2 separate regions of the Homo sapiens genome follow, and region 2 is linked to region 1. The links come from fine-mapping of genetic effects on gene expression. Tissue or cell type: monocytes after LPS. Region 1 holds a variant in brackets; the other region holds the start of a gene. All regions are shown on one strand. Distances are between the middles of the regions.

What was found. PIP is the estimated chance that this variant, and not a neighbour inherited with it, causes the effect.
Region 2: SRGAP1 starts here. The variant in region 1 is fine-mapped to the expression of SRGAP1 in monocytes after LPS (Quach 2016, PIP 0.95). The same link has a PIP of 0.9 or more in monocytes after Pam3CSK4 and monocytes after R848.

Annotation. Positions count from the first base shown.
Region 1 is chr12:63,910,739-63,921,894 of GRCh38, forward strand. All of the region lies in intron 1 of SRGAP1 (SLIT-ROBO Rho GTPase activating protein 1), which reads left to right. Among named protein-coding and RNA genes, the nearest start is that of SRGAP1, 72 kb to the left of the region's middle. RefSeq lists an enhancer at 8,120-8,908. The variant AGGGAAATGACG/A (reference allele first, on the strand shown) is at 5,905.
Region 2 is chr12:63,840,065-63,851,220 of GRCh38, forward strand. SRGAP1 (SLIT-ROBO Rho GTPase activating protein 1) reads left to right here and starts at 4,636. Exons shown (of 22, transcript NM_020762.4): 1 at 4,636-4,819. The coding sequence starts at 4,753. RefSeq lists silencers at 3,569-3,988, 4,049-4,108, 4,219-4,478 and enhancers at 3,641-4,142, 4,143-4,642.

The DNA.
Region 1 (11,156 bases):
TTTCTCTTGTGCTTTTATATTCACTACTGGTGATGGTAAAACCAATATAATATGTTGTCTTTAAGGGACAGTGCCTTTTGGGAGATGGGAACAGTGGAGAGGTCATCCCAGTCTGATCTTAAAAGGGCCTACCCCAGAGTGGAAGAGATCCTCCATTTGTCCTGACAACTCTAGAGTAGAGATGTGGACATGTTTTGAGAATAGAGGAGAAAGGAATAGTCTCAGAAACAATACACTTGACAACAAATCCAAAGTATATATAAAAAAAGAAAACACTTTGGCCAGGTGCGGTGGCTCATGCCTGTAATCCCAGCACTTTGGGAGGCCGAGGCTGGTGGATCACGAGGTCAGGAGATCGAGATCATCCTGGCTAAAACGGTGAAACCCCATCTCTACTAAAAACACAAAAAATTAGCCAGGCGTGGTGGCAGGCACGTGTAGTCCCAGCTACTCAGGAGGCTGAGGCAGGAGAATGGCGTGAACCCAGGAGGCGGAGCTTGCAGTGAGCCGAGATGGCACCACTGCACTCCAGCCTGGGCGACAGAGTGAGACTCTGTCTCAAAAAAAAAAAAAAAAAAAGAAAAGAAAACACCTCAATAACTTTAAGGTGTCACCCAGCACAGTGTTTTTAAACTCTTGCCTCTGGATTTCTTCAAGTTTCTGCTAATGTGCTGGCAACATCTTAGTCAACCTTGCATCTATCTCTGCACCCATCCATGTAGTTGTGGTGGTGTTTTGTCTAGACGGCTGTGCCCTTAGCTGATCTCCCTGAAAAGACTTCGCTAGATTTGGCTACTGCAGCACTACAGCTGCTAAATTAAGATAAACTCTTAACATTCCTGACCCAGAATTACTGTATCCCCTTGCTAAGTCTTCTGTGTGAAGTGGCACCACGTTGCTAATTCTGTAGTTCCCAGTTGTTGTCAAATGCTCAGTGAACTCTTGACAACCATCTCAGACTTTAAAATATTTAAGCATCACCCCGATTACATTGCTAAGAGGTGCTGAATGTTTTAAATAAAGCTTACCTAAACAGTCTTGTCTCATTCCGGTTTCCCCTCACAGAGGAAGTGTCTTTCAATAACCCAAAACTACTGGCTTCTAATTTTAGGGATAACTAAGGTGGGACTAGGACAGAAAATAAGCTCTTCTCCATTGATTTTCCTTAGTCATTTTACTCCAGAGGCCTATAATTAGCTCTATTTTCTCCACCTGTGGTACATCTTTAGGTTAAAATGATGTTGGAGAAATAGTGGAGGATGTGCAGAGTTAGAAATTAGGGAGTGTACTTGGTCTCACTTTTGCATACTTAGATGAATGGCACTGGGGAAGAAGAGAAGGGGGACATTATACACCAATCTGTGTCCATTTCCTTTTATTTTTAATGATACTAATAACTCAGGGACACTTATTGATCATCTACTGTTTGCCAGGCACTGTTCTGAGTGTTTTACTTGTATTAACTCATTTAATCCTCACAGTACAAAAGCCCTGTGAGGTAGGTACTGACACTATCCCTATTTCAGAGTTGAGGAAACTGAAAGGGTAATTTATTCAATGTCACGGAGCATGTAAAAGTCAGCACTAGGCTGGGCACCGTGGCTCAGACCTGTAATCCCAGCACTTTGAGCAGCCAAGGCGAGAGAATCACTTGAGGCTAGGAGTTCCAGATAAGCCTGGGCAGCAAAGCGAGACCCCCATCTCTAAAAATATTAAAAATAAAAAATTACCCAGGCGTGGTGGCATGAGCCTGTAACCCCAGCTACTTGGGAGGCTGAGGTGGGAGGATGGCTTGAGCCCAGAAGTTTGAGGCTGCAGTGAGCTATGATTAAGCCACTGCACTCCAGCCTGGGTGATGGAACAAGACTCCATTTTAAAAGAAAGAAAAAAAAAATCAGCACTGGATAGAGTACACACTGTTTGTTGCTCTGCCATTCTGCTGGGACAGATAGCAAGATGAAAACAAAATTTTTTTAAAAAAGAGAAATATAAACGCTGTTGTTTCCCATCTGAAAACTCTAGTTTTACATGGTAGGGATTTTTGACCAACATTTTAGAGGTAGTTCAGCCCTGCAACACTAGGACGAGGGTTCATGGCCTGCAACACTAGCTGGAAAGAAAGAGGAAGTTTAGATAATATTAATAAGCTCCACCTAGAAGGATTAAATTCACTTGTGAGTATCACTGGGGTTGCTTACAACAACATTTTAAATACCCAGTAGAGGAGTCAAGTGCTTTCCTTAGTCCTCATTTTGAAATTTCATCAAATAGGGTGCTATTCCACACATAAGGCTTGTGTTTAGCTTATAAGGCCCTCCTCGATCTGCCTCTTCTTCTCCCTCATTATGCAATGACATAGAAATTCTTGCTTTTCCTACCTCCCATGTTTTATTCCTCCTACCTGGAATGCTGTTCTTTATGCCTCTCAGTGCAACCAATTTTCTGGTAAATCCTTCTTTTTTTTTTTTTTTTTTTTTTTTTTTTTTGAGACAGGGTCTCACTCTTGCCCACATTGGCCCAGGTGATCCTCCCACCTCAGCCTCCTGGGTAGCTGGGACTATAGGTGCTCATAACCATGCCTAGCTAATTTTTGTATTTTTTGTAGAAACAGGGTTTCACATATTGCCCAGGCTGGTCTTGAACTCTTGGCTCAAGCGATCCTCCCACCTTGGCCTCCCAAGGTGCTGGGATTATAGGCATGTGTCACTGTGTCCACATATATATATATATATATATATGGATATATATATATAAATACACATATATGTGTATATATATATACATATATGTGTGTATTATATATATACACACATATGTATATAAAGACACAGTTCAAGGGTCAAGTCTTTTACAAAGCTTTTTCTTAGATGAACTTCATCTCTCTCCCTGTTAATGGATCACTTCCTCCTATGTGACAGCAGCATATATACTTTTATATTAGCATCTCTAATATTTTATTGCAATATTTGTACATGGACCACAATGTGTGTTACCCGTCGTCCATAAAATAGGCACAAAAATTGAAGGTAAGCATTTAGACCTTGTATAGCAATTTAACAAAGTAATTTTATGACTCTGGAATCTAATAATAAAAATTGGAGATTGCATTTTTATATCTTAATTTTTATTTTTTTTTCTAGTTTTAAACAAATTTTTATGAAAGTATCCATCGTGAAGGATTTACATTTGAAAAAACTGGTCCTTTATTACAGATAGTTTGGGAAGCACTATTTATTATTTTTTCTTATCTGTCCTCTGTGCTAGGCTGTAAGTACCTAAGGGCAAAGTCCCTCTTGTATGAACAGTATTTTTGTATCAACAGTAATGAATTTGTTGTTCAGAACAATGACACTGTGACTCTCATAAAACCATTTTCATACCTATCACTTGTCCCTTTTTAAAGACTGAATTCTACTGTGTTTTATCCCTCAGTCATTGTACTTATCATTATCATACTGTAATTAACGGTTTATGGTTCTGTTTTTCCCACAAAACCTTAAGGATAGTTGAACCCGGCTCTTAATCACTTTTCCCTTCCAAATTCCAACCACAGTGCTTGGTATAAAATCAATGCTCAGTAAGTGTCATTGATTGAATGAACAAATGAATGGATTCTAGCTGCTTATCTGTTCCTTTTTGTTTTTAGTGACCTGATTATGGCTTGATTCATAAATTCACAGCTTATGGGTGTAAAATAGATCTAGAAGAATTAATTTCTGATGTCTCCCTATATCTACTACTACAATTTAATATTGTCAAGAATTATCTTTTTATGAAGATAATAAAATAATCTTTTTCCGTGTGAACAAAATGGGATTTGCATTTTTGTATGAATTACTTGTACCAATAAAAAGTCCTTGTATCACGTTGCCACTGATTTACGTTACTGTAATTCTGCTGCACAGGTTTGCCTTTCTTTGCAGGTTTGAATTTTGGTGTTTGTTTCTGAGCTGGTCCTCTCTTCCAAAAATAAGGCAGCTAACGGAAAACCCTACAAGTTTCTGTCTAAAAACCATTCCCTCTGATTCATTTACTATATTTTTTTCCGTACTTTTTTTTTTCTAAATATGTTCCCTATTCAGCTGACCTACGTAATTAGGACTTTGAAAAATCCCAGAAGAGCTCTATTTTGTAATTTACATTTGAATTATATATTTCAACAAAGCATCTAACCTTGCTGTGGAAGGATGTTAAGATTGTTTTTGAATATTGTATTTTAGCTTTCTCTGCTTATTGGACAATTGATACTTAAATTTTGTTTTAATCTACTCAGCATTTCAAGTTCTTTTTCTTCTTATATATTTTTGTAAGAAACCTCCATCATGAAATAATTTAGATATTTGAAATGTGAATAATGAAAGTAGAGTCAAATAAAAGTATATTTGCTTTAACTTTAGTAAAGAGGGGAAATATAAAAGTTGCATAAATTTAAAAATTAATCTGGAGATATTCCATGCTAAGGGCTTGTTAAATAAGCAACATGAAGAGCATCAATCAGGTTGGACATTTTTATTGTCAATGTTTAGTTACTTCCAGTGTAGATTAGTGTTTTTTGAAACAGAAGTAGGCAGGGCTAACTGCCATATGAATAATTTACTTTCAGGGAACCAGGAAACATAAAAGTATAAATAGTATTTCTAATGGACTGCCAAATGTTATAATCCAAATAAAAGCATTTCCAGAGGAACCAAAAGAATGGGGGCATTCTATTTGTATGGAATATAATTTGATAAAAAATTATGAGCAGATTGCATTCATAGAGAAATAAAATATGTGTGAGGGGAAAACAGCTAATAAAGAGGAGACAAAAGAGAATAAAAGCAGTGATCCACATTTTGAAGATTTTTAGCTGGAGACACTGAGTGATCATAGCAACCATCTCCAAGGAGACCTGTGGAAATGTGAAAAACGCTGAGGTCACACAGGCGTCCAGAGAAATTCCTTATTGATTAACAACTTCTAGATATGTCTTTCTCTCTTCACCTTCAATGCCTCCAACCTTTCAAACAGCATTTATTAGAAAGATAAAGGAAAACCAAATGTGATTTGCCCTGAAGAGAAAAAGTAACTCTCAGAACAGAAACTCAGCTCAAAACGTTTTGAGCAGCCTTTCACTAACCTTCAAAAGCTATTCAGAAACTTGGATATTAATGAAGTGAGAAGTCTCAAGGATGAAATAGAAGCCTTGGTCATAGGTGGTAGTATTGGTTATTGTTTTACTGAAAAAGAGGCAAGTTTAAATTCTAGGGCTTGGAAGCAAAATGCTCAGAAATGGTGTCTTTTCTTTTCTTTTCTTTTTTTTTTTTTTTTTTGAGATGGGGTCTCACTCTGTCACTCAGGCTGGAGTGCAGTGGTGTGATCATGGCTCATTGCAACCTCTGCCTCCCAGGCTAGAGCGATCCTCCCACCTCACCCTCTCGAGTAGCTGGGACCACAAGGCATGTGCCACCATGCCTGCCTGATTTTTCTAGAAATGAGGTTTCACCATGTTGCCCAGGCTGGTCTCAAATTCCTGAGCTCTAGGGATCTGCCCACCTTGACCTCCCAAAGTGCTGGGATTACAGGCATGAGCCACCATGCCCAGCCTGAAAGGTTGTTTTATAATTCCTTCATTACAAATCAGGCAGATCCCCACCAGTTTGAGACACCTTTAGGTGGGTGATGAGAAACTGTGTGCCATCTTTGAGGAGCATGATTTCCTTAGTTCATTCAGTTAGTAAACATTTATTACTTGTCTGCAGCAGCTCAGCCAGCTCTATACCAGACGCTGGGAAAACAAATGTCATCCGTGGTCTTGAGATGCTAAAAGTTTAAAGGGGAGATGGACAAAATAACTAAAACTGAAAGCAGTAATTACATACTGTAGGAAATGTGTGCAGAGTGTTCTAAGCATAGAGGGGCTGG[AGGGAAATGACG/A]GGGAACATTTGAATCAGGAAGAAATTCCAGAGGAAGTTGTGACTATGCTGAAAGCTGAGAAGGGGCATAAGGTGCCTAGGATGATATAAAAGTCATGAGATTTAAGAAAGGTCTGGGAATCGCATGCAGGCCAGTAGACTTAATGAGAAGTAGTTAGGGTGTGAAATGTGACAAAAATTAAGTACTCTTCTGCTCCACCCTCTATCCATTTATTTCTCCTTGATTAATTTTGGGGAAGTTGTGGTTTGGATCTGAGAGGAGAGTGTGCCATTTGATCAAAACCACGAGGCCAGATCATTTTCCAGTACCACCAAGGATCATTTGGCATGGGCTGCTGATTTCTGCTGTGGTCTCACCTTGCTCAGCAAGGTCAGATTGCATATAGATTTCATGTGTTCACTTTAAGGAATCTCACTTGTGAGATTTAGTCATATTGCAAGCTTTATATCTACCCCATGGGATATAACATATGGGATATGCTATTTAATGGCAGTTATGCAGATTAAATGAGCAAATATATGTACAACACTAATAATAAATACTGCCTGATACATAGTAAACACCGTATAAAGCGTTATTATTGTTATGATGAGTAATTATTATTCATCTGGGATTCTCCTGAGTCGTCGGAACCCCTGGGCTGTCCTTTGGACCTGGAGCCTGAGCAGAACTGGAAAAGACTCCCAGAAAGACCTAGGGCTCTCTAAGACAGTATGGTCCATTAGAGGTATGGATGCCTGGGTCTTGGCTAGAGTCCAGGGTGGAAAATATAGGTCAGTTCACTGAAAAGTTCATTTTTATTGTGAGTGTGTTGGGAGCAATGTGAGTCAACAGCACTGCGCAGTTGCTCCTTTTGAATTTGCTACCATAATTTTTGGAAGGGACTGCATGGGCTTCACAGCAGCGAAGGCCCTGGGTTTTACTACTATAAAATAAGTCATCATCTAGGATGTGAAAGAGCTTGCTTTCTGTTTTGTTTTAAAAGGATATATTATAGCTGATAGTGCAAATCTACTCTTAAGAATTTCTAATTACTATTTGAATATGGTCTCTATTTCAGAACCTGCTTAGGCCCAAATTTGAAAACAGTTTATAATGAACCTGCTTTCTGTAATTCTTGTACACACCAATTTCCCACCCTGCTTTCTGTAATTCTTGTACACACCAATTTCCCACGCTAGCTGTGAGAAGTTCATGGGATGATGTGTCTGTGTTGTTTATCCTACAGAAAACCGTGAATAAATGGCTGTTATTTTTGCTATTCTCGTCTTGCTGATTTCCTATGCTAGTGGCTAGCACAAATGCAAGATTATATTGTGCCATACTCACTGGAAGTTTGGTGGCTACAAGATTTCCCTAGCACATGGCCTTAGTCTGAGCAAACTGTAGCAACAACTATAGGATGCCCAATTGGTTCACATTTTAAAATTGGGTGTGGACAAAATCAGTCATAGTAAAACTGCGTAAAGAATGCAGATTGCTCAAAGCTATGTCCTTGAGCAATAAAAAGCCGCTTTTTATGAGGAAATTACACTGTCGTTGTGCAAGAATAATATTGTGCTGGACAAAGTGCTAAATTCTTTTTTTAATCATCACAACCCCTCCTCCCCCCATTACCCTGTTTTAGAGATGAGAAAACGGAAACCCAGTGAAGTTAAGCAACTCATTCAAGGTCACCCAGCTAAGAAGACTAATGAGAGCCTTGATTTGAACCTGGAAGTGTCTGACTTCAGGGTTCATGAACTAAGCCTTTTATGCTCTATTGCTTTCTCTCTTTTTTTAAGACAAGCCTCACTCTGTCACCCAGGTTGGAGTGCAGTAGTGCAGTCATGGTTCACTGCAGCCTCTGCCTCCCAGGCTCAAGTGACCCTCCCACATCAGTCTCCTGAGTAGCTGGAACTACAGTCATGTGCCACCATGCCCAGTTAATTTGTGTATTTTTTGTAGAGATGAAGTTTTACCATGTTGCCCCAGCTGGTCTCGAATCCCTGGGCTCAAGCAATCTGCCTACCTCGGTCTCCTAAAGTGCTGGGATTACAGGCGTGAGCCGTTGCACCAGCCAGTGCTCTATTGCTTTGTTTGCACTATCTAGGCCATTTGTTCATCCATTTATTCATTTATTCCATAAATATTTATTGTATATGCCGAGTACTCTTCTAGGCCTGGAAATACTGTGGTGAACAAGAATGTCAAAGACTCCACAGTTAGGGAGTTTGCATTCTAATGGGAGAGACTTAAAATAAACAAGGAAATGAGTGCATGAGTGTGAGTCAGTGTGTATGTATATATTCTTTGGGGAGTGACGTGTGCTATAAAGACAAATGAAGTTCAGAGAAGAGGTATGTTAGTTATTTCGTATTTTGGTTTTTTTGGGGAGGGGTGTTTTTTGTGTTTTTGTTTGTTTAGTTGGTTTTTAGAGACAGGATCTTGCTCTGTGGTGCAGGCTGGAGTGCAGTGGTGTAATCTCAGCTCACTGCAACCTCCGCCTCACGGATTGGAGTGATTCTCCCACCTCAGTCTCCTGGGACTGGAAGCTGGGACTACAGGCACACACCACTATGCCTGGCTACTTTCTGTATTTTTTGTAGAGACAGGGTTTCGCCATGTTGCCCAGGCTGATCTGGAACTCCTGGGCTCAAGTGATCCACCTGCCTTGGCCTCCCAAGGTGCTGTGATTACAGGTGTGAGCCACCATGCCTAGCCAATATTTTAATCGTTTTAACTTAACATTTAATATATATTTGTATATTAATGATCCACCTGCCTTGGCCTACCAAAGTGCTGGGATTACAGGTGTAAGCCACTGTGCCTGGCCAATATTTTAATTGTTTTAACTTAACATTACATATATATATATATATATATATACACATACACACACACACAACTATGTTTGAAAATTATAAAGGATAACAGTGTCATATGTATGACTTACCACCTAATCTACAAACAAAAGCCCTGCCAATTCTGTCGCACTTATCTGTGCTCTGCCCCATCCCATATACCTGCCTATCTTTTGAAGCAACTACTTCCTAATTTTTTTCTTTCTCTTGCCTTTTTTTAAAAAATGTTATTTATCCCTTAAAAATATGCTCATAAGTACTATACAGCTAATTTTGCTTGTTTGTTTTGATTTGTAAAAATAGTATAACTGTTTGACATTGTTGCATGTAGCTGTAGTTCATTCATTTTAAAAGCTGAATTATGTGTTGTTGGGTGAGTATGCAGAATCAATTGATTCATTGCCCTGTTGGTGGATATTTGGATTGTTTCCAGCTTTCTGCTATTTGAACAATGTTGCTGAACATTTTCATGTGTTCCTATTAACACACATATACAGGAGTTTCTCCATGGCCTATTGCTGGGAGTGGAATTGCATGGTTATTGGGTATGTCAGTGTTCAAGTTCACATGATACGACTGCATTGTTTTCCGAAGGAGCATCACCAGTTTACATTCCCACTCATAAGTGATTAAGAGCTCCAGCAGACCCACTTTTTATCAGCACGTGGTATTATAAAACATCTTAATTTTTGCCAGTCTGGTGGGTATAACATTGCATTGTGGTCTTCATTGACATTTCCTGATAACTATTGAGATATAGCCTCTGAAGAGGTGACTTGAGCAGAAACCTGAATGAAGTGAACGACCAAACCATGAATGACTGATGGGTGGAATGTTCCAAGGCAACAAAACACAGGCTGAAATTATCCTGAGATGTCCATGGAGTAGCAAGAGAGTCCTTGTGAATAAAGAGAAGTGAGCTGGAGATACAAGGTTGGGAAGGAGTGGAGAGGCTAGTTCTCCTAGAACCTGGGATGCCATGGTAAATACTGTACTTTAGACTTGATATGAGAGTATGAGAAGACATGACAAGGCGATTAGAAGGGAGGAATGTGATTTGATTAATGTTTTTAAAATATGTTGGCTTCTATGTGATTGGATTATAGGGGATGATGAGAATGAGACCCTAGAGATGAGTTGGATATGCAGAAGTTAAGGCAAGAGATAGTTCTGGCTTCTGTCAGTGTTGGTGAAGAAGGTGGTGAGAAGCTAGATTCAGGACATAGTTTGAAGGTAGGCTGGTGAGTGAGACCTGTAAATGGTTTGGATGGAGGTGTGAAAAAGGGAGGAATTAAGGATAATATCCTGGTTTGGGAGTGAATAACAGAGAATGTAGATCCATTGACGAAATGGGAAAGACCTTGAAAAGAAGAGTAGGGTTGGGGAGAAAATGAAAAGTTTTTTTAATATGGAGAATATATATTCATTGTATTTGTAGCTACCTACTTGACATGTCATCTGTTGATGTTTCAAAAGTACCTTCAATTAAACATGTACAAAACTGAACAAATGCTTTTTTGTCCCACCCTTGAACTTCTTCCTTATCTCAGTGAGTGGTGGCCCATCCATCTGGTTCGACAAGCCAGAAATCTGGTAGTCATCTTTAATATCTCCCCCTAGCTTGTCACCAGTACCACTCCATTACCACCACCTGACAGTTTACTTCTAAAATATCTCTAGAATGTGTTCATTTATTTCCATCTCCATCGTGATCACTCTAATGCCAGCTACGTTACCACCAGTTTGCACCTTGAGTGCTGTCGTAATCTCCTAACTGCATTTGTTCTAATCTTTCAATAATCCATTGTCGACTCTGCAGCTGGCTCACTTTGAACCTCCAAGTTCAAAACCCTTCAAGACTTCTTTATTGCCTTTATGAGTAATCCACGATATGACCTGAATGACCAGGTTCCTGCCCATATCTCTAGTGCCATCTCTAGCTATTTTCTTCTCTCTGGGCATCTCTTTGTTTCTTGAAGGCACAAATTCATTTCCCTTCCTGGGCGTTTGCACAGGCTGAACCTGGAATACAACTCTAAGTAACATCATCCTTTAGATTTTAGCTCAAATGATACTTCCTTGGAAAAGCCACTCACAACCCCTGCTCCCCTAACGTGTACACGTACATATGCTCCCACGCCTGCCACAACTAAGGATTATCTGTTATATGTTCTTAAAGAATATAATTTCAAGGATTGCTTAAGCCCAGGAGTCTGAGGCTGCAGTGATCTGTGATCATGCCTGGTACGTAGAGAACATTTAATGAAGATTTGTTGAATAAATCAGTTGGGGAACAAGGGATTGCTCAAATATCTGAATTGATTTTATAGGCCTTTCTAAGAGAAATACTTTTGGTTATGATAGATAAACTCTTCAAAAAAAACTTGCTGGAAAGAG
Region 2 (11,156 bases), 71 kb before region 1:
AAAATAATGGAAACACTAATTGACTTGTTAATTACACTAAACAGTTGGATCAGAAAAGAGATCCACCAATAGAAACCCATGACTCCGTCACACACATTTTACTTATTTGAACTCACTTCACAAGTTTAAAGGAATCATAAGTTCATAGGAAGTGGAATGGAAAATTGGAAAGAGTACCCACTTTGGAGACAGGCAGATGTGAACTGGAATTCTGACCCTGCCAGGCCAGACATTTACTGAATTTTCTGAGCCTCCAGATTCTCATCTGTAAAATGAGGACAATGGTGTCCGCCATGTAGGGTTCTTCTGAGAATGTGTGCAAAATTCTTACCTTAGTGGGTATATCCCATCTTCAACAACAATAAAATGGTGGCCTACTAATGGTGGCATTAATATTCAATACATTTTATTGACTGTGTATTGAACACCATAATAAAATTAAAGATGAAACATTATCTCTGATCTTTATTTATTCTTTGTAGAAATGAGGCTGGTCTTGTACTCCTGGGCTCAAGCAATCCTCCCACCTCAGCCTCCCAAAGTGTTTAGATTACAGGCATGAGCCACCACGCCCAGCCTATCTCTGATTTTTAGATAGCTTTCTATTAGGAAGAGTAAAACTAAGATAATAATTGTAAAGATAACTAATACTCACTGGGTGTATACCATGGCCTACAAGTACTTTTAAGGGTTTATCTCAGTAAGTGCTTATAACATCCCCAGGACTTAGGCATTAACCAATTTTACAGATAAGGAAAATTTGTAACCCATTTTACAAACTAAGGCCTAGAGAGAATAGTAATTTTTACCAGATCCCTTAGGAAACAGCAGATTTAGGATTCACCTCTGGGCACCCTGTCTCTGGGGCTTGTTTGCAACACACTGATTTAGGTCTAGACTCAGGCAACAATTCATTTCTAGGTGCTGCAATCTCTGCTGTCAACTTGTGCTTCCCAGGTGCAAATATGAAACAAATCCCAACAGCATCATGGATATGAATCCCATTTAGATGTGACTATGATTATCACCTAAGTAGGCTGCCTGCCTGGTCTCTCTTTCTCTATGGCTAACCCATCCTTCTACACTGCCAACAGTTATCTTTATAAAACACAAATCTGATCGTGATACTTCTCTACTTAAAAGGCTCCCTGCTGTCTGCAGAACTGTGTCCAAGATCTTAGCATGGCACAGGAGGACTCTCCCAGCTGGCCCTGACCTTCCTTCCAGCCTCTGCTTTCTCTTCACCGTACACTCTTACATAAGACAGCTCCACGTGAAATTAGGGCAGCCAGGGGTGCCATAGTATAACTGCCTGTGTGGTAAAATGAAAAAAAGACTGAAAAAAAAACTTAAAAAAAATTGGCATATTTTCTTTACATATATTCTGTTGCTATAAAGTAAAAAAAACTTGCTAAAATTAGATTTTAAAAAAGCAGTGCAATTAACAATGTCCACATACCCACATACTATCAGCTGACACATGCATATACATATATTACAATTTTTTACATTATTTTTCACCATCTAGCAGAGATCTGGTATCTTAGTGGAAGATATCTTGTCACTCTATTTGCAATTCCTCTAGAGTATAACACTCTTCCTTTTCCCTGGAATGCATCCCTTTTCCTCCCTAAAGTTGCCAGCTACTTACTATTCATCCTTTAAATCCAGCTCAAAACCACTCCTCTGCGAACTCTTACACCCAATCCTCTTATGCAGTCTGTTTTTCCATCCCCAGTGCTCCCAAGACTGGGAGTATTTCTATCTCTTACAGCATTATTGTACTGCTTGTAATTATTTATTTATACAGTAATAGACTGCATGATCCTTTCCGGCAGTCTTAATCTTTGAATCCCTAGTTCCTAGCGTGGTGTTTGGCACAGAGTTAAGAACTGGAGAGCCGATCACTGGATACATGAAAGAATGATCAAAGTCTAAAAGTCCCTACTTTCTTTAGATCTTGTGGGGAAAACACTTGAGGGGATACACCTTTGGACACATCATTTTGATAAATCAGGCCCATAATATTTGAGAATTGATTTGAAAGGAGTCAGTAAATATCTCAAGTGGTGTGAGTCAAAAAGGCTAACAGAACCAGGTGTGGTGGCTGATGCTTGTAATCCCAGTGCTTTGGGAGGCTGAGGTCGGAGGATTTTCTTTTTTTTTTTTTTTTTTTTTTTTGAGAAGGAGTCTCCCTCTGTCGCCCAGGCTGGAGTGCAGTGGTGCAATCTTGGCTCACTGCAACCTCCACCTCCTGGGTTCAAGCGATTCTCCTGCCTCCGCCTCCTGAGTAGCTGGGATTATAGGCACATGCCACCATGCCCGGCTAAGTTTTATATTTTTAGTAGAGATGGGGTTTCACCATGTTGGCCAGGCTGGTCTCGGACTCTTGACCTTGTGATCTGCCCACCTCGGCCTCCCAAAGTGCTGGGATTACTGGTGTAAACCACCGTGCCCAGCCAGAATCTTTTGAGGCCAGGAGTTTGAGACCAGCCTGGGCCATAGAGCAAGGCTTCATCTCTACAAAAAAGTAAAAATAATAAAAAAAAATTTAAAAGGCTGGCAAGGATGGATTTAAAGTACTTAACACAACACCTGAACCATGCAAAGATGGCAAGGTAAATTCTTCGTTATATTGTTCAAAAAGAGACTAGAGTTTGAGACCAGCCTGGACAACATAGGGAGACCCCCGTCTGTACTAAAATGAAAACAAACAAACAAATAAAATAAAAAGAGACTAGACACGATAGATCTTGTAAAAGGTATCTATTAAAAACGTGGCCGGGCGCCGTGGCTCACACCTGTAATCCTACCACTTTGGGAGGCCGAGGTGAGCGGATCACTTGAGGTCAGGAGTTCAAGACCAGCCTGACCAACATGGCAAAACCCTGTTTCTACTAAAGATACAAAAATTACCCAGGCACGGTGGCGGGCGCCTGTAGTCACACCTACTCTGGAGGCTGAGCCAGGAGAATCACTTGAACCCGGGAGGCGGAGGTTGCAGTGAGCGGAGCTCGTGCCCCTGCACTCCAGCCTGGGCGAGAGTGAGACCCCGTCTCAAAAAAAACCCCCAAAAAACAAAATCAAAAAACAAAAACAAAAACAACCGTAAAAGTACTAAGTGCAATGTAGTGTCCTGTGTTGGATCTTGGAACAGAAAAAATGACACTAGTCGAAAAAATTGGTAAAATTGGAATAAAATCTGGAGTTTAGTAAATAAATAAGCTAACAACGCCGTTAAGTGTGACGTGTTTCCATACCATCGCTTTCCTACCATCCTAGCTTCCCTATCTACTGTAGGAATAGAGGATATGGTGTTCAAGGTGGGTGTTTTTCTCCGCCTCGATTGAAGAGCTTCGCGCTCTTTGGATTAACAGCCAGGTCATTCACAATTCAGTGTTCAGTTTTTCTATTGGGGTCCAGCGTCTCGGAGTAACATCCCTTTGTGTCATGGATACATCCAACTCTGGACTTCCCCATTAGATTCTGGCAAAAGCCCCACCAGAGCCCCCGCCAGAGCCAGAAGGCGGTCCCTCAGGTCAGGAAGGGGTTTTCCTGCCGCCGGAGCCGCGACCTCGGCTAGCGGTGGAGCGGGGCTTCGGCGGAGGGAGGTGCGGGGCCTCGGCGGAGGGAGGTGCCGGGGGCGCCGCCCACGGCCTCCTGGGCTCGGCGCGCGGGGCCGGGCTGCGGTTGGCCACAAGAGGCATCCATCTTCCCGGACCAGCCAGGCGTTTCCTAGCGGAGCAGGGGCGGGAGCTTGGACGGAGAAGGGCACAGGCCGGAGCGCGGTCCGCTCCCGCGAGCCTGGCCCCGCCTGGCGGAGCCCCGAGGAGCCACCGCCCGCAGATCGCTAGCCGGGCGCCCGCGAGGCGCGAGCCGTGTGCGCACCCTCAACTTTGCTGCCGCCGGGGGCGCGGCTCCCGCGTGCGTGTGCGAGTGTGCCTGTCACTAGCGGCCTCCTGGGGGCAGCAGCGGAAAGGGGGACGCAGAGAAAGGCAGCCTCGGCGCACCGCGGCCAGGGAGGCAGAGGCCCCTCGCGGCGCCGGCTCTGGAGACCTAAACTCCGCCGGGGCTGTGCCCAGGGCGCGTCTGAGCGTCGCCGCCTTCACCCTCTCAGCAGCAGCGGGGACTCGCGTCAGGACTGCGATTCCTTTCGCCTGCCGAGCTGTAGCGGCAGTGTCTGCGGGCAGAGGAGCGGCGGCCGTGGCAGCAGCATCCCCAGCCCGGGCGGGACCCTTGAGCGCCGGAGCCGACAGCTGGAGGCAGGAAGGGAGGGTTGTGGCGCCCGAGCTGGGCGCGTTCCCAGCGCCTGCCCTCCGCCGCTGGCCCTGTCCCGGGCGCCCGGTGCGGGTCTCGAACAATGGTGCGGAGCGCCGGCGCGAGCCCCGCGCCCGCCCAGCGGCCGTAGAGGAAGTGGCCGGGCTCCCGGCGAGGTGGGCAGGGAGACGTCCCCCGCCACTCGCTGGCTGGAGTTTGCCTGCGCGTCCGGCCTCTCCCCCGGGGATCCCCTGGGATTACCGACGGAGCTCAATTTCGAGAGTATGGTGCCAGCGCCCGGGCTAATCTAGTCCTCTCTACTCGCTCTTTTTCCCCTCCTCCTCCTACTTCTCCTCTCCCTCCTCCCTTCCCTCGGGTCGGCGCTGCCTCTGGATTGCCTGCGTGTGGGAGTACAACTCTGCCTCTCCAAGGAGAACGGGTTGTGACCACTGAACAAAACTTGCCCATTGAAAGCAAACCCGGAACAGCTGGATAATGTCCACCCCGAGCCGATTCAAGAAGGACAAAGAGATCATAGCCGAGTATGAAAGTCAAGTCAAAGGTAAGGATGGGAGCGGCTGCCTTGCTCCTTTTGTGTGCCTTCTTGTCATTGTGCTCGTGGAGTTGCGTATCTAACTTGGTGTCTGCGTGGGAGGAAGGTGGTGAGGGGACAGCTCGAGCCCTGTCTGAGCCACCTGGGCTTCCTACAAGCCAGTTAGTTCCCAGTTGCAATCCCAGTCCCGTCAAACCCACGGGGAGCTGGAAACTGGGTGACTTCCCCCGCCAGCTGCCAGCCCGCATCTCTAATGGGGAGAGAACTGGCTTTAACTTAACCACCTTCAGCTGGGCAACTTATGTGGGAAGCAGGCAGCAGTGGAGGATCCTGTCCAGCTATTATTATCACCATCATTATTCTTTTTAAATGGTAGGATTGTCACTACGTAATTTTTTTACGGAATGATTTTTGTAAAGTCTGTGAACCCCAAGCGGTCTACAGCCTCATTGAGTGCAGGCTATTTCAGATATTTACACCACTCACCTATTTACACCGCTCACAATTTATTAGGGCGAGACCCCTTTTATTAAATAGCTCCCTAAAAGCCTGGCAGTTAAACGAAGCAGTGACTAGTGGAATCTGACTCTTCCTTTATAATGGGCCAGAATTCATTGCCATCTTTCACACTCACATGGGAATATTGCTTTATCATTTTCTGGAAGCCACTTGCATGTAAAATGAAGGTTTGAATATTTGAGTAGTAGTTTCAGTCCATTTACATTGTCAACTAATGAAGGAAACCTAATTAAGGCTGATTATTTTTACTTTCTATGCCTTGTGATTAAAAATATATATATTTTCTCTCCAATACAAGTATTTTGTTTTGTTACTGAAGTGTTTCGTAAACATATGTGTTACTTGAATTTTTTCCTCCTCTTTCCTGAGGTCTCAGGAGTAGCTTTCCTGATTGAGACAATGGATGGAATGTTGGGACCGCCACTGTTCTTTGACACATTCAATGCAAAGTTCATAAAGATTGCTATGTATACACCTGTGTTTATCTATGCACAGTCTTATGAAAGGGCTACGGAGAGAGGCATTACTGTACTTCCCTTGAGCAAGGGAGGAGCAGCCTGAGTGTTCTTTTGTGTGGTCAAGTTGTAAAAATGCCTGGAGTCCTGTGAGAGGACCTGGTGGAGAAATCCTGTATCATCCAGTGTGAATACAGACCAACTCATTGTGGACACTGCAGACACAATATGCAAGATAACTTAGGTTATCTTTAGGAGGACCCCTATAATGGAGTTATCTATAGGCTGACCCCTATAATGTGTTCAGGAGACACAGATTTTTGTCTGCTTGGAATTGTGATAATTTATACTTACAGGAACTTGTTTCATTGCTATGGAAGTTGTGTTAGCAGATAAGTAATTATTTTCTTAGAGCCAGGTAAACTTTCTAATGAGACTAACCTTTCTTTTTTCAGTGAGTCCAACATAGCCTAAAACCTTTCATTCCAGGGCAGTACTCTTGTTCACAACCACCATTTCTCTGTGCAGTTTTTCCACATGGCTCTTTGTGGCAGGTCTTCAAGGGGTGGCGGTCTGGTTTTTCTGCCGCCTAGAGCACTAATTGGCAAATGCACTTCCAAATGTTGATTTCTTTATGTTTGCTGTAAGGTCACTTGCCAGTGATCAAGTCCTTATTTGAAAATCAGCGAAATGGGATGTGTTGCAATGTGTCTATCAAATTCAAACGGAAGAAAAATCATGAACATGGTGAAAATCACATTTGGAGCTAAGTCTGTCCCACAGAGAATGACCTTCTCCCTATTTCCTTCAACACTTCTTCCTTCCACACACCCACGAGTCCCTAGGCTGCTTTAGGAGTCTTCACTGCACCTGCCCTGCCCTGAGTCCAGGCTTTACCTCCTCCTGCAGTACCTACACATCCAGTATCTAACCTAGATCACTACATCCATACACAAACATGGGAATAAGGGAATATCATGGAGTCAGATCATATACGCATTAAATGGCACAAATTCACCTGGTACTTCTAGGCAAATCAAGAAGAGAGTGGGAGACAAATAACAGATAAATAGTACATGAGGCCAGCTGTCCAATGCAGGGAGAGTAGGCCCCTTAGTAAGGACAGCATGGGAGACAAGACTGGTTTTTCTGTACCCTCGCAGAGTGCTAGTCTGTTATTTACAGGTATGTGTTTTGGGATCAGGTGCAGTGGTGCATGCCTGTAATCTCCGCATTTCAGGAGGCTGAGGCAGGCGGATCACTTGGGGTTAGGGGTTCAAGACCAGCCTGGCCAACATTTTGGTAGAGAAACCACATCTTTACCAAAAAATACAAAAATTAGCTAGGTGTGGTGGCACACACCTGTGGTCCCAGTGTGCCTGTGGTTCCACTTGAACCCAGGAGGCAGAGGTTACAGTGAGCCGAAATCACATCACTGCACTCCAGTCTGGGTGACAGAGTGAGACTCTGTCTAATAAATAAATAAATAAATAAAGGTATATGTATTTGGAACAAACTACTTTTTAAATTACAGTCAGCAACTTTATCTGATGATAAAAAAAAATTCTGTTCTATTGCTAAAGGAAAACCTGACTGTGTGGGACTCATTAAGACATAAGTCTAGGCCAGGCACGGTGGCTCACGCCTGTAATCCCAGCACTTTGGGAGACCGAGGTGGGCGGATCACTTGAGGCCGAGACCAGCCTGGCCAACATGGTGAAACCCTGTCCCTACTAAAAATACAAAAATTAGCCGGACATGGTGGTGCATGCCTGTAGTCCCAGCTACCCTGGAGGCTGAGTCAGGAGAATTGCTTGAACCCGGGAGGCAGAAGTTGCAGTGAGCTGAAATTGCGCCACTGCACTCCAGCCTGGCTGACAGAGTGAGACTCTGTCTCAAGAAAAACACAATGAATAAACATACATATTGGACTCTATAGGTGACTTAGGTGTGTGGGTGATTTCAAGAGTCATTTTGATTATATGTATTTTTTTTTCTACCTTCTAACTTAGAACCTAACACTCTAGAATATTTTCCCCTGTTACTCTCTCCCATTTTCCCTAATAACAACTTTATTTATCTCAGAATTTTTGAGATAATGTTTTGACCTAAAGGAATGACTTCAGATATGGAATTTTTTTATTCTTTAATTTTTATTTTATATATATATATATATAAAAGGAGTATCGGTCTGCTGCCCAGGCCAGAGTGCAGTGGCGTGGTCTCGGCTCAGTGCAACCTCCACCTCCTGGGTTCAAGTGATTCTCCTGCCTCAGCCTCTGGAGTAGTTGGAATTATATACACGCACCACCACGCCCAGTTAATTTTTGTATTTTTAGTAGAGATGGGGTTTCGACATGTTGGCCAGGCTGGTCTCGAACTCCTGACCTCAGGTGATCCACCTGCCTCTGCCTCCACCTCCCAAAGTGCTGGGATTACAGGCATGAGCCACTGCACCCGGCCCAGATATGGAATTTTGCCACTGTGGCTGCCTGCACAGGTTTTGGGAACAGACTTCATGGGGCTATTCTTAACTGTGAAAAGAACCATTCCTGGTGATAATTCGTAATTTTATGTATAAGATCATAGATGTATCTAGTTGTGTGTATCATTTTGGGCAAGTCACTTAGCCTTTCTCTGGGTTTCGGTTTTCTTATCTATAAGATAAGGAGTTGGAATTCTCTTCATCTTAAGTGTCTTTTTTTTTTCTTTTTGAGACAGAGTCTCACTCTGTCACCCAAGCTGGAGTGCAGTGACACGATCTCTGCTCTCTGAAGCCTCTGCCTTCCGGTTTCAAGTGATTCTCATGCCTCAGCCTCCTGAGTAGCTGGAAATACAAGCGTGCACCACCATGCCTGACTAATTTTTGTAATCCTAAGTGTCTTTGAATCTAATTGAAGATGTCATATCAGTTCATATTAATTGCCTCATAAAATTTTCAAGCTTTTAAAGTTTTCAGTTGGCTGCTCTGTTTTGTGGAGAATCATTTTTGCTTTCACTTTTTTTTCATAAGTTCATGGACAGTGTATAAATTGAGTTTTTGGAGAATTAAAATAGAATACAATAAAGAATACAGAAAAAACAGTAATCAAAACCACATGCAGAGAAATGTAGCACAGAATTGTAAGACAGAAGAATCAGGAATGATACAAGTGGTTAAACAGTGGATAGGTTTAAATGGGGGACAAAAGGGGACCCCAGGCAACAGTTTTAAAGAATGAATTGAACATTTCATGCCTCTTGGTCAAATTCTCAAAGACTTAGAATTAAGAGAAATAAATCTCTTGTTTGAATAGGCCATTAGAAAGCAAGCATGTCTGGAAAAGTGTATGAAACCCAAACCAGTTGACTATGCTATTTGTTAGCATCTCTGGCAAATAGCGTAGCAGTGGAAGGGATTGAATAATTGGCTAGCAGAAGGTTTTGAATTATCTGTGGACTTTAGTGATCTATGTAATTCTTGTATTCTGCAGCAAAAATATTGTGGAGCTACACATATGGGAACAATAAAGACTCATAAAGACATGTTTTATGAAGTGGAACTTATAGATGAGAGGCTGTGTTTGTTTTTAATAATGCATGTTGCTAGTTGCTAAGAATTGACAGTTATTATTTGTAGTATTTTCCTAGAGATAGCACCATATTTATCTACATGGAATATGTACAGGGAGTGCCAAGAAAATCTGTTGTTCTTTGACCACTCTGCAGCCTGACATACAAATAATACATTTTAGTAGCAGATGGAACATGAGGAAATGCCAATTTGATTTGGTATGGCCCTGCATCATGCCATAGCAATATGGAACCTGTGTCTGCATCTTACATTCTTTCTTCAACATAGAATAGGAAGTGACAGCAATTTAAGTTATGAATTAAAACTTTATAGCTGGGAGGGACTTTTAACATTTTTTCTCCAACCCACTCATTACATGATGCAGGGAGGCTTAATGACAGAGTTGCACAATTAAGACGTACCTGGGACCAGAACCCAGGTTATCTTCTTTTCAGTAGCGATAATTCACTTGTAGATTCCTCACATAGTAGATATCTAAATAGGAGATAGAACAGTTACCTATTGAGACTTTACATTCATTGAAGGAGTCATTGTTGGAACTAAGAGAGCAAGGAAACCGTCGTCTGTGAACAGGAGTTAATTACATTGATTAACTCTAACCAAGTTGTTTTTTTCACCAGGACCATTTTAAGAGACCACAATACCCAGGCAGCAGCTTCACAGGGTGGCCTTTAAGGTCTAGAAAAACAACATGGTTAATATGTACAAATATGATTTGCCTGATGTTTTGGTGAAGCTGATTGCGCTACTGCAACAAGGCCTTTACAGTGCCCTGAAAACCCGGTTAGTTTCATGAACTTCAGAATATATTAAGGGATAGTTTTGGAGAAAATTTTGAGCAAAGCATGACCTTCTGAAACACATGAGGGCTGGATTATAATACAGGGTAGTAAATCTCAGCTCTGACAATCTATATTGGTTTGTTTACTCCTGTGCTATGTTGACCAGTTTAGGAGCCAGACAGCTTCAAGTCTGTTCTAGGTTTTAGAGTCTTTGTAAATTGGCCAATTTTTTTTTTTTTTTCTTCAAGACAGGATCTTGCTTTGTCACCCAGGCTGCAGTGCAGTGGGTGAACAAGGCTCACTGCAGCCTTGACCTCCTGGGCTCAAGCGATTCTTCTGCCTCAGCACCCCAAGTAGCTGGGAATATAGGTACACACCACCATACCTGGCTATTTTTTTTTTTTTTTTTTGTAAAGATAGGGTTTCGCCATGTTGCCCAGACTGGTCTCAAACTCCTGAGCTCCTGCCTCAGCCTCCCAAAGTGCTGGGATAATTGGCATGAGCCACCATGCCCGGCCAAGGAGAGACAGCTTAAAAAATTTTATTCATGCTACCTATTTTCACTTCAATTCAAACAACTAACAAAATAAAGAAAAGGGAATAAATTGTTTGTCTAATTAGTCTATTTATGCTTTAGCAGTTTGAAGGCAGAATTTTGGATTAGAGGATGGGCATGGTAGCTCATACCTGTAATCAATCCTAGCACTTTGGGAGGCCGAGGCGGGTGGATTGCTTGAGCCCAGGAGTTTGAGACCAGCCTTGGCAACATGGTGAAATCTCGTCTCTACTAAAAACACAAAAATTAGCCGGGTGTGGTAGCATGTATCTATAATCCCAGCTACTCTGGAGGCTGAGGCACAAGAATCACTTGAACCCAGAAGGCAGAGGTTGCAGTGAGCTGAGATTGTGCCACTGCACTCCAGCCTGGGCCACAGAGCGAGACTCCATCTCAGAAAAAAAGAAGTTTGGTTTAGAGACAGTTATGTAAAGGTAATTTTGTCAGCTCAGAACTACTT